Regions from separate parts of the Homo sapiens genome. Here region 2 is linked to region 1. Evidence: fine-mapped expression QTL. A gene starts in region 1. The other region holds a variant in brackets. All regions are shown on one strand. Distances are from middle to middle.

Region 1 (5,368 bases):
TCGCTGTCCGGTGCTCAGAGTTTGCTAAATACCATCAGGTCCAAGGCAAGCGAGCGGAGGAGCTGCCTCAGCAGAGGCCCTCAGTGCTCACCTAGACCTGGCAGCTGGGATGGGACCTGCCAGGTGGTGCCCCCTGTGGCCTGGGCCAGACCTGTTCACCCAGTTATTCCCTGTGGGGCCTGAAGGTTGTCACGCTCATCATCATATTTGCAGTTTAGGACCCTGAATCGGCGGGTGGGCGGATAAAGTTGGTATTGGACCCTGGCCCAGAGCACTGCACTTCCCCAGACTCTACACCTGGTACTGCTCCTGCTCCCCAGGGACCCAGCCGCGTCCCTGTCCCTGCTGGCCCCGGCTCACCATCGCTCAGAATCAGCTCGACCGGCGCGCTGTCCCCGGACCAGCCGTTTTGGTTGTCATGCAGCCGGTAGCGGCAGGTGTAGTGACCTCCATCCCCCAGGGCCACCGCGTTCAGGTGAAAGAAGATGCGATCTGGGCTGGTGCTGCTCCTGGGTACCAGCAGCTCTTTCTCCCCGCGCCGTAGCTGGAAGTCCACTCCACTCAGGGGAGCCACGCAGGTGAGGGTCACCTTGTTGCCAGGGTGCAGGACCTGGGAGGACTCTCCATGGTGCATCAGCACAGGCGGTGGTGGTGCAGCTGCAATGCAGGCAGCATTACTAGGCTGCCCCATCCCTGGAGCTGCCCTCTGCCCAGTCCCCAGACCTCTGCCCTCCGGGTGGCAATCCCAGGAACACCCTTCCATTCTTTTTTTTTTTTTTTTTTGAAACGGAGTTTCGCTCTTGTTGCCCAGGCTGGAGTGCAGTGGCGCCACTCAGCTCACTGCAAGCTCTGCCTCCCAGGTTCAAGGGATTCTCCTGCCTCAGCCTCCTGAGTAGCTGGTACTACAGGCACCTGCCACCACACCTGGCTAATTTTTGTATTTTTAGTAGAGACGGGGTTTCGTCATGTTGGGTAGACTGGTCTCGATCTCTTGACCTCATGATCCGCTGGCCTCAGCCTCCCAAAGTGCTGGGATTATAGGCGTGAGCCACCGCACCCGGCCTCACCCTTCCATTCTTTGGGCATCCTCTGCCCAAACTCCTTTGCAACCATCAGACCCAGGCAACCGTGTGGCCAGCTTCCTGGACCTGGTCCTGGGCAAGGACATTCAGCATGGAGGTCAGGATGAATGTGGTCATGCCCCCTGTATCCTCCTCCCCCAGCAGCCCCCAGAGATGGTTCCCACAGTCACCGAGCTCCTCAATGGTCACAGTAGCGCTGGGCTCAGAGAGGGCGCCTTCCCCATCGGTCCGGTAGCTGCAGCTGTAGTTGCCAGGCTGATGGACTGGAAAGGTGGCCTCCACATCCTCCTGGGCCTCAGGCACCTCCAGAAACTCATGGTCGCCCTCCCGCCTCAGCAGAAAAGTCACACCCCGCAGCACACCTCGGCACACTGCTGTTGTTTTCAGGCCGGGGGTGATCCAGGACACTGGCGCCATCGAGAGCCAGGGAGCAGGCAAGGACTCTGTGGGTGGGGTGGAGTTGAAGAGTGCTTCTGCATAACAGGAGACGTGGGAAGCCCAGCAGAACCTGGGCCCCACACTCATAAGACTGTGAAGGAGACAGGGATGGAGGGCATTGCTGGGAAAAGGCAGGCAGGCACCAGTGGAAACAAGGCATACGGCAAGAGAAAAAGAGTGTGTGGGAGCTGTACGGCATGCCGGGCCTGCTGGGGACACAACCATGTATTCCTTACAACACAGACATCATCCCCATTTGACAGATGGGAAGATTGGGGCTTGGGGCTCAGAGACATCGGGTGACTTGGAGGAAGGGAGACCCCCCAGTCAACAACCTACCCACTGCCTCCTGGCCCCCAATTCATGCCCCGGCTCACTTGGCCCTGTCAGCTCCAGGAGCTTGCTCAGCTGGGTCCATCCTGTGGACAAGCCCGAGCGGCAGCGGTAGCGGCCCTGGGTGTCACCCGTCAGCAGGAACTGGTGCTTGATGGCAGGTGAGTCAAGGTGCACAGGCTCCTGGGCCACCCCATTCTTGAACAGCTGGAAGTCTGGAGTCTCCAGGTGGGCCTGGCACGTCAGCGTCACATTGGCCAAGGGTTTCAGCAGTGATTCGGACTCTGCCCACAGGCTGGGCTGCGTCTCATAAACTGCAAGGGGTGGCTGGGATCAGCTCAGTGCCACAGAGACAGGGCTCCCCCCCGGCCTGGGCCCACCATTCCCAGACCTCACCCCTGCACTCACATATGGCTGCTTCTGTCACTGGGCCCCAGGTGACACCTGCGGAGACAGCCCCCGTAAGGCTCCTGTTCCCGCCCCCTCCCGCCCCAGGGACCCAGACCCCAGGAGGCCTCACCCCACAGCAAGAGAAAGACCACGAGCATGGACATGATGGTCGCGCTCACTCCGGTGCAGTGAGTGTCTGGGGTGAGCGTCTGCAGCAATGAGGCCCCAAGGGAGGGCGGTGGGGTGGCTCGGGCACTGACCTCTTCCCGTGTTTGTCCTTCCCGGAAGGCGGGGGCAGGGCCCCCATGGGGTCAGGGCAAAGGGTGAACTTCTGAGGCCTCAGGATGCCCAGCAACAATTATAATCAATAATCATGTATGATTAATAAACTAAATCAAGAGTGATAAAATGATGTTAAAACCACCTCATCCTCATTTCAGTGATGGATCCTAGAACCTGTTCTAGAAGGAGACGCTGAGTTCTCCCCACTCTACCTGGAGCTGCTGAGGTCAAGTGGAGAGTGCCGGGGCTGAAGCCCAGCGAGCCCCTCCCTGTCACACCACACTGCACATGTGACACCAAAGGTGGGGTTCACCTCTTTTCAGACTTTCTGCGGTTGCCCTCACATGGGCTGTCTGGAGGTGCACCCTCACTCTTCCTGAGGACTGTGGTTCCTTCTCCATCACTGGTTCATTCTGCATGGTGTGACCCACCACGGCTCTGGAGTCGGATTTCCACCCAGGTCATTCAGCTGAGACCTGCGCTTCCCAGGCCTACCCGTGACATGTGCTCAGTTACCTGAGCTGCTGGTGGTCACTCATGTGGCTATAGCCTGCTGCCTGGAGGCCAGGCCTCCCGCTTCCCCTGCCTCCCCCTCTCCTCACCACAGCCTGTTGGGATGGAACAGGACAGGGGTGAGACCGTGGTGCTTTCACACTCAGCCTCCATGGACATCCTGTCATTCCCACCCGGGGAGGTCTGGTCCCCACCCTGGGTGTCCCAGCCTAGCTCCGCTACGAGTGTGAGGGCCCAGGGCAACCGCCTAGCCCTCATCTGCCCCCTGCACTGCATCCTCCCCACTCATTCATTCCACAGGCATTTATTGAGCATCTACTGTGTGCCAGATGCAAAGAAGACAGTGGGATAACTGGGCAAGGAGCATTCCAGGCAGAGGGAACAGCCAGTGCAAACATGGGAGATGCGGGTGCAGTGAGAAGGAGCAGAGGAGACCAGGAGTTGAGGCGACTGCAGAGCGATTGCAGAGCTCATAGACGTGATGAAGACCAGCTGGGCACTGCAGCGGCTCTGGCTTCTGCTGTGAGGGACGGGGAGCTGTGGAGACTCCCTCTGTTTGGTCCCATTTCCATATTGCTGAGCACCTGCTGCATGCTCTCTGTCCTGCTCAGAGCCAGTACCTGGATGGAGGCTGTGTGTTCTGGGTGGACTGGGGGAGAATGCATTCTTTGCAGAAGAGACAACCAGGTGCTGAGGCCTGAAGTCATAACCAGACCTGGGGCACTCAGACAAGGACTGGTGGCCAGGCCAGAGGAGCAGAGCTCAGGGTGTGCACAGAACTCAGAAGTCAGACCACTGAACAGTGACAGAACCTTTCAGCCCATTGGCAATGAGGCTGCCCAGGCAGCCAGAGGCCTGGTCAAATCTGAGGTCTGCAGAGATGGAGCTGTCATTCTGTGTTTCCTTTGGCAGTCCCAACACCAGCCTCGTTGCACCCTCCTCTTAGCTTCCCTGGGTTCTCCAGCCCTAAGGGTGGTAGCAGCTTCCTGCAAGTATCCAGCTCTGAGATTCTGCAACATCCACTTTTGCTCTCTGAGCCTTGCAAAACCTGCACAATCAGTCCCTAACTTATATCCCCTCTGTTTGAAATACCTAGTGTGGTTTCTATTTCCTGACTTGACTCTGACTGGTGTGGTACTTGGTATAAAGAAGGTTCCCTGGCCAGGTGCGGTGGCTCACGCCTATAATCCCAACGCTTTGGGAGGCTGAGGCAGGAGGATCACTTGAGCCCAGGAGTTTTGAGACCCGCCTAGGCAACATGGTGAGACACTGTCCTTACAAAAAATTTTAAAATTAGCCAGGTGTAGTGACGCAAGTCTGTCATCCCAGCTGCTTGGGAGGCTGAGGTGGGAGGATCACCTGAGCCTAAGAAGTCGCGGCTGCAATAAACAGTGATTGCACCACTGCACTCCAGCCTGGGTGACAGAGTGAAACCCTGCCCCCTCCCCCAAAAAAGAAAAGTCCCATGAAACAGACCTACACAGGTGAGATTCTGAGATTGATCTGGTTCTGACCTCGGTCAGGAATGCAGTGCTGAGCTTCTTGCCAACAGAATATGAGACACTAGAAAGCCATAGCATGCGGTTTCATCATGTTTAACTGTCACCTGTGGTTGCCTGAGATGAAGTGCTGACTGAAGCGAGCACCTTAGGAGACACAGTGGCCACTGCACTGAGCAGCTGGTAGCAGCAGTGGTGACCATGTGGACTGGGGGGTGGGTTGGCTGCTTTTGACAGTGCCAGAGAACTCAAAGAAATAGCCACACCTGTCGGAGACCCCAGTTCTTGCCCACCTCTGCATGGACGAACCTCTCGCCGAAGTGGAGCCTGCCGCCCTCCCTGGGGTAAGAGCCCATCCTACATGTCCCCAGACAGGCCTGGGTGGCCGGTGGACTATCGTCAAAGGGACTGTGCAGCCAGGGTTCTCCACACCCAAGGCCGCCCCTGCACTCCCAGCAGGAGGGCGCCCGCACCGGCGGCCCGAAAAAGTCTGGGCCAGCAGACAGCGCACTCACGCCCGAGACCCCGCAATGCCGTGTGTCCGCGACCTCCCGCTCAGGGCGTCCTCGGGTCAGGGCGCAGCGCGGCCCCCGTGCCGCTTCTGGTGCTCGTTGAGGTTGCAACGGTGGCTGAAAGGCTTCCCGCACTCGCCGCAAGCGTAGGGCCTCTCGCCCGTGTGCGTGCGCCGGTGGCTTAAGAGCTCCGACTTGCGCACGAAGGCCTTGCTGCAGTGGGCGCAGACGAACGGCCTCTCGCCAGAGTGCAGGCGCTGGTGCTGGCGCAGCTCGGAGCTGCCGCGGAAGGCCTTGCCGCATTCTGCGCAGGCGAAGG
Region 2 (5,368 bases), 35 kb before region 1:
AGCCTAGAGCCACACTGATGTGTAGGATCAAAGAGAAGGCGGCAGTGGCCCTGGAAACAAACCTGTCTCTGCAAGAGTCACTAGCAACCTGGGACCTCTGCCCAGGACTGAGACCTCGGGTGCCCCCTACCCTGTAGCTGCTGAGGCCAAGCAATGTGGAGACAGAGAGAGGGTGAGGTGATGGAGCCTGAGGTGCCGAGTGAGGTAGATGGTGGGGTGGCAGTCACAGTGGCACAGGAGGCAGGTACAGGGCTAGATGTTTTCAGAAACCAGATATCCCTCTAAAACACACCCTGCTTCTGCTGCCTTCATTCCACTGCCCTGCCTTCCTCAGCCTGCTCTACACCACTACCTCCTCATGGTTCTCCTGCCTCCCGTTGCCCCCTTCATCACTCTCCACTCAGCATTGGGTAGAGAGGGTCTTTTACCCCTGACTGATGAGGCCACCCCTCTCTTTAAACCCTCCATCACTGCCCAGGCCATCAGAGTATGGTTGGCAAACTCTTCTGTAAAACACAAGCAGCAGGCTGGGCGCAGTGGCTCATGCCTGTAATCCCAGCATTTTGGGAGGCTGAGGCAGGCCTGAGGTTGGGCCTATGAGACCAGCCTGGCCAACATGGTGAAACCCTGTCTCTACTAAAAATACAAAAAATTAGCTGGGCGTGGTGATGCATGCCTGTAATCCCAGCTACTCGGGAGGCTGAGGCAGGTGAATCGCTTGTTCCCAGGACATAGAGATTGTGGTGAGCCAAGATCGTGCCTTTGCACTCCAGCCTGGGCAACGAGCGAAACTCTGTCTCAAAAACCAAACAAAAAACACACAAGCAGCAAATGTCAGCTTTGTAGGCTCAGAGAGAAAACCAAGAATGTTACAAAGGTACCTATCTAACAAGAGAAAAACATGTCCATACATTTTATTAATAAAATCCAAAACTTTGTTAAATGTAATTCATTCCTTAATGAGCAAAAAGCTTTTCACAGGAGGTTCCATTTTATAGATAGGAAACAGACCCCAAGGGAGGTGAGCAGCCCAGAATTACAGCAGAGAGTGGTGAAGATTTGATCCTAGATCTGACAGCCTCTACCATCATACTTGCCATTCTCAGCTTAGGAATAAGATGGGGAGGAAGGTGTGGGTAATGGGCAAATCAGGGCCCAAATAGTCTGTTCAGTACTCTTGTCTCGTGGGAAGGAACAAAAGGCCCCACATCTGCCCTTCCTCCTGGGAGTCTCTGTTAGGACCTGAATTCAGTACAGCAGGAATGATCAATTTTTCTCTTTAGAGCACTCACCCACTTGACATCTCACTTTGTTCTCACATAGTCCTCATAGAGGTATCCTGTGGCTGCTGTCCTTGAAGCCTGATAGCATGGAGCTGAGGCCTCAGACTATAACAGGGCACATAATTTTCATGAAGTTCAAGAAGAGGCTGGGCTGGGCGCGGTGGCTCATGCCTGTAGTCCTAGCACTTTGGGAGGCCAAGGAGGGTAGATCACCTGAGGTCAGGAATTCGAGACCAGCCTGGCTGACGTGGCAAAACCCTGTCTCTACTAAAAATACAAAAATTATCCTGGCATGGTGGCAGGTGCCTATAATCCCAGCTACTCGGGAGGCTGAGGCAGGAGAAGCGCTTGAATCCGGGGGGCAGAGCTTCCAATGAGCCAAGATTGCACTATTTCACCCCAGCCTGGACAAAAGAGGAAAACTACGTCTTAAAAAAAAAAAAAAAAAATTAGGCTGGGACACCTTTCCTGGAAGGGCTACTTACTACAGGGGAGCTGTCTAAGGTGCTGAAATGTCCTAGCCCTGCGCTGTCCAATATGGTAGTTATGATTAAATTCAAATAAAATTACAAGTTCCATGTCCCAGTCACACCAGCTATGTTTCCAGTACTCAGGAGCTACCTGACACTGATGGTGCCATATTGGACAGCACAACTCCAGAACTTTTCCATCCTCACAGAACATTCTAGAATTTAATTTGAATGCTAGTTACACAGGGCTGTGCATTTACCAAATTCACTAAGCTGAGCACTTGTAATTCTGTAAAACATGTATATGTATTTTTGAAAGCACAAAGTTTCACGTCCCCGCCTGCCAGTCACTTTACCAAACAACCTTTGGTTTAACTTCTCTGTGCCCCAGTTTCCCAACCTGTAAAAGAGAGTAATGATACCTCCCCTTTGATTGGTTGAGAGTACCACCAAAGGTGTTTGCTGGGTGGCCTGACCTGCAGGAGGTGCTCAGGAAAGGGGAGCTGCTGCTGTCATTTGGTGGAAGTGGGTCCCCTTATCTGGCTAGCAGATGCCTTGAGTTATGGTGAGTATGATGGGGACAGACTCCCAGGAGGATGGAATGGCATCACTCTGTGGAAAGACTGTGAAACAGAACACGAACACCTCATGGCATCTTTGCTGCCTAGAGCCATGCCACTTGCACACCCTCCTTCTGCTCCTGACTCCCAGGAAGGCAAGGGGGTCACTGGGCTTGGGGCTCCACAGAAAGAGGCTTCCTGATTTGATGCTTAAGAGCTGTGCCTCAGACGCCTGCCTCTAAAACAGAAAGCCGTCCACACAGACACCCCACCTCATCTGGGTACCTCCTCTGGACCTAGGCTGGGTCCCCACAGGCAGCCACAGCCATCTATGCTGCTGCCCCCACACTGCCTCTGGCTGTGGGCTTCTCGAGGGCTTGCTGTGTGATGCTGAGTTCCTTAACGTGGAGACAATGTGTTGGAGTGTGGCAGTGTTCAGGCCCTGCTAGCCAAATAAGGGGACCCACTTCCACCAAATGACAGCAGCAGCTCCCCTTTCCTGAGCACCTCCTGCAGGTCAGGCTGCTCAGCAAACACCTTTGATGGTACTCTCAACCAATCAAAGGGGAGCTATCATCATTACCCTCTTTTACAGGTTGGGAAACTGGGGCACAGAAAAGTTAAACCAAAGGTTGTTTGGTAAGTGACTGGCAGGCAGAGATGTGAAACTTTGTGCTTTCAAAAATACATGTATATTTTTTACAGACGTACATGTGCTCAGCTTAGTGAGGAAACTAGGAAACAGGCCCAGAGCTGGGATATGGTCAGTCAGTGGCATGAAGAGCCGAGAGTGGAGCCTGGCAGGAATTTCCAGCTGGCATCCATTTGTTACTGAATATCA[G/C]GGCACTCCCCCAGAGACACAAGCCACCCCTAACCACATTCTGGAAAACGATCTCACGTGTGTTTCCGTCCTAGATCAGGGGTGCTCCTGCCAAGGAGAGGGTGTATGTGGGGAGGCCTGCAGCTGTTTCCCAGACCTTAATCAGCCACAAGGAGTCCACGCTGGGGAGGGTGTACTGCCATGTAGTGGGTGGGAAGATACCTTTGGCAAGAACACGTGCCTTGTGAGCTATCAGCAGATTCCCAACAAAAGGAGACCCTGTACGTGCGAAGAGTGTGGCAAGGCCTTTGGACAGAGAAGTCACCTTGTTCAGCACACCAGTGAGAAGCTGTATGCATGCCAGGAATGTGGGTGTACCTTCAGCAACAATTCATCTCTAGTCAAGCACTGGCACGTCCACACAGGCGAGAAGCCCTACATGTGTGGCCACTGTGGCAAGTGCTTCCGAGAGAGCTCATCCCTTGCCAAGCACCAGCGTGTGCACACAGGTGAGAAGCCATACGTGTGTGGTGAGTGTGGACGCACCTTCAGCGAGAGCACACACCTTGTACAGCACTGGTGATTCCACACCGGGGAAAAGCCATTTGCCTGCCAAGAGCAGCAAAGCCTTTGCTGACTTCTCGGCCCTCCTTGCATGCCACGGAACCTACACGGGTGAGAGGCCCTACGAGTGCCGGGTATGCTGCAAGGCATTCAGCCCCAGCTTGTCCCTGGCTGAGCACATACGCTGCCACACGGGAGAGAAGCTGTATGCGTGTCAGGAATGTGGGAAAGCTTTCAGCCACAGCTCATCCCTCAGCAAGCACCAGCAGGTACACACAGGTGAGTGGCCCTATGTGTGTGCAGAATGTGGAAAGGCCTTCAGCCAGGGGTCCTACCTGACCCAGCACCTCAAGATCCACAGCGGTGAGAAGCCGTACATACGTGGTGAGTAAAGGAAGCCATTCGGTGACTCCTCAGCCCTGGTCCTACACCAGCGGGTGCACACAGGCGAGCATCCTTATGCATGTGGAAAATGTGGGAAGACTTTCAGCCACAGCAAGTTTCTCACCCAGCATGAGCAAGTCCGCATGGGAGAGAAGCCCTTCATGTGTGGTGACTGTGGAAGAGCCTTCATGCAAACCTCATCCCTCGCCCTCCATCAGAGGACTCACAATGGGGAGAAGCCCTACAAGTGGAATGAGTGTGGCAAGTCCTGCATCCAGATGTCACACCTCACCGAGTATTACCAGGTACACGCTGGGGAACGACCCTTTCAGCCGTGGCACACACCTCACGCAGCACCAGCATGTGCATGCATGTACCAAGCCATTCATATGCCATATATGTCAGAAAACCTTCCAGGAGGCCACAACTCTTGTACTACATGAGAGGATTCCCTGGAGAGAAGCCCTTTTGAGTGTTGTGAGTGTGGCAAAGCCTTCCGCCAAAGCAGATTCCTGGCCCAGCACCAGAGAATTCATTCCCAGGGAAAACCATGTGAATACATGGATATCAGAAAGCCCTCAGTGACGCTTTGGTTCTTGTATGTCAGTGAACTGGGCATGTGCCAAATATGGCAGAGATCTTCCCATCTATCCTTGGTGTGTTGTCCTTTGCACCGGGGTGGCAGGTGAAGAGGGACTGTGAGTGTGAGGAAATCAGGGTCAGTGTGAGAAGCCCCTATTATACATTTCTCCCTTCAGGGTCACCGGGGCGGGTGAGGAAGCTGGGAGTGGGCCTAGGATATGTCTTTCAGATGTCACATGGAGATACTTCTCCATAATTATCAAGGGGCACAATGGCCACTTCCACTTTAATTAGATTCCCATGGATGCTAACCAAGTGGTAGGAGGTACACAGGTATGAACAGGTTTCCTCTCAGCAGTCCTAGAAGACTTTATTTCAGTTTTTGCCAAGACAAAAATGAAATTTAAAAAATGTGGGTTTTTTTGTTTTTTGTTTTTTTGTTTTTTTGAGACGGAGTCTTGCTTTGTCGCCCAGGCTAGAGTGCAGTGGCGCAATCTCGGCTCACTGCCAACCTCCGCCTCCTGGGTTCAAGTGATTCTCCTGCCTCATCCTCCCGAGTAGCTGGGATTACAGGCCCCCGCCACCAAACCCAGCTTTTTGTATTTTTAGTAGAGATGGGGTTTCACCATCTTGGCCAGGCTGATCTTGAACTCCTGACCTCGTGATCCACCCACCTCGGCCTCCCAAAGTGTTGGGATTACAGGC

What was found. PIP is the estimated chance that this variant, and not a neighbour inherited with it, causes the effect.
Region 2: its variant is the best candidate, but not a certain one, in a credible set for the expression of A1BG in whole blood (TOPMed, PIP 0.80).

The regions. Positions count from the first base shown.
Region 1 is chr19:58,351,031-58,356,398 of GRCh38, forward strand. It overlaps A1BG (alpha-1-B glycoprotein), which reads right to left and starts at 2,462. Exons shown (of 8, transcript NM_130786.4): 1 at 2,374-2,462; 2 at 2,262-2,297; 3 at 1,898-2,167; 4 at 1,253-1,525; 5 at 361-657. The coding sequence starts at 2,407. It overlaps ZNF497 (zinc finger protein 497), which reads right to left. Exons shown (of 3, transcript NM_198458.3): 3 at 3,327-5,368. The coding sequence ends at 5,109. A1BG-AS1 (A1BG antisense RNA 1) reads left to right here and starts at 940. Exons shown (of 4, transcript NR_015380.2): 1 at 940-2,014; 2 at 2,349-2,444; 3 at 2,684-2,827; 4 at 3,339-4,153.
Region 2 is chr19:58,315,870-58,321,237 of GRCh38, forward strand. ERVK3-1 (endogenous retrovirus group K3 member 1) reads left to right here. Exons shown (of 4, transcript NM_001396080.1): 4 at 1-943. All of the region lies in intron 2 of LOC105372480 (a long non-coding RNA gene), which reads right to left. It also overlaps the pseudogene LOC100887072. Among named protein-coding and RNA genes, the nearest start is that of ZSCAN22, 8.4 kb to the right of the region's middle. The variant G/C (reference allele first, on the strand shown) is at 3,155.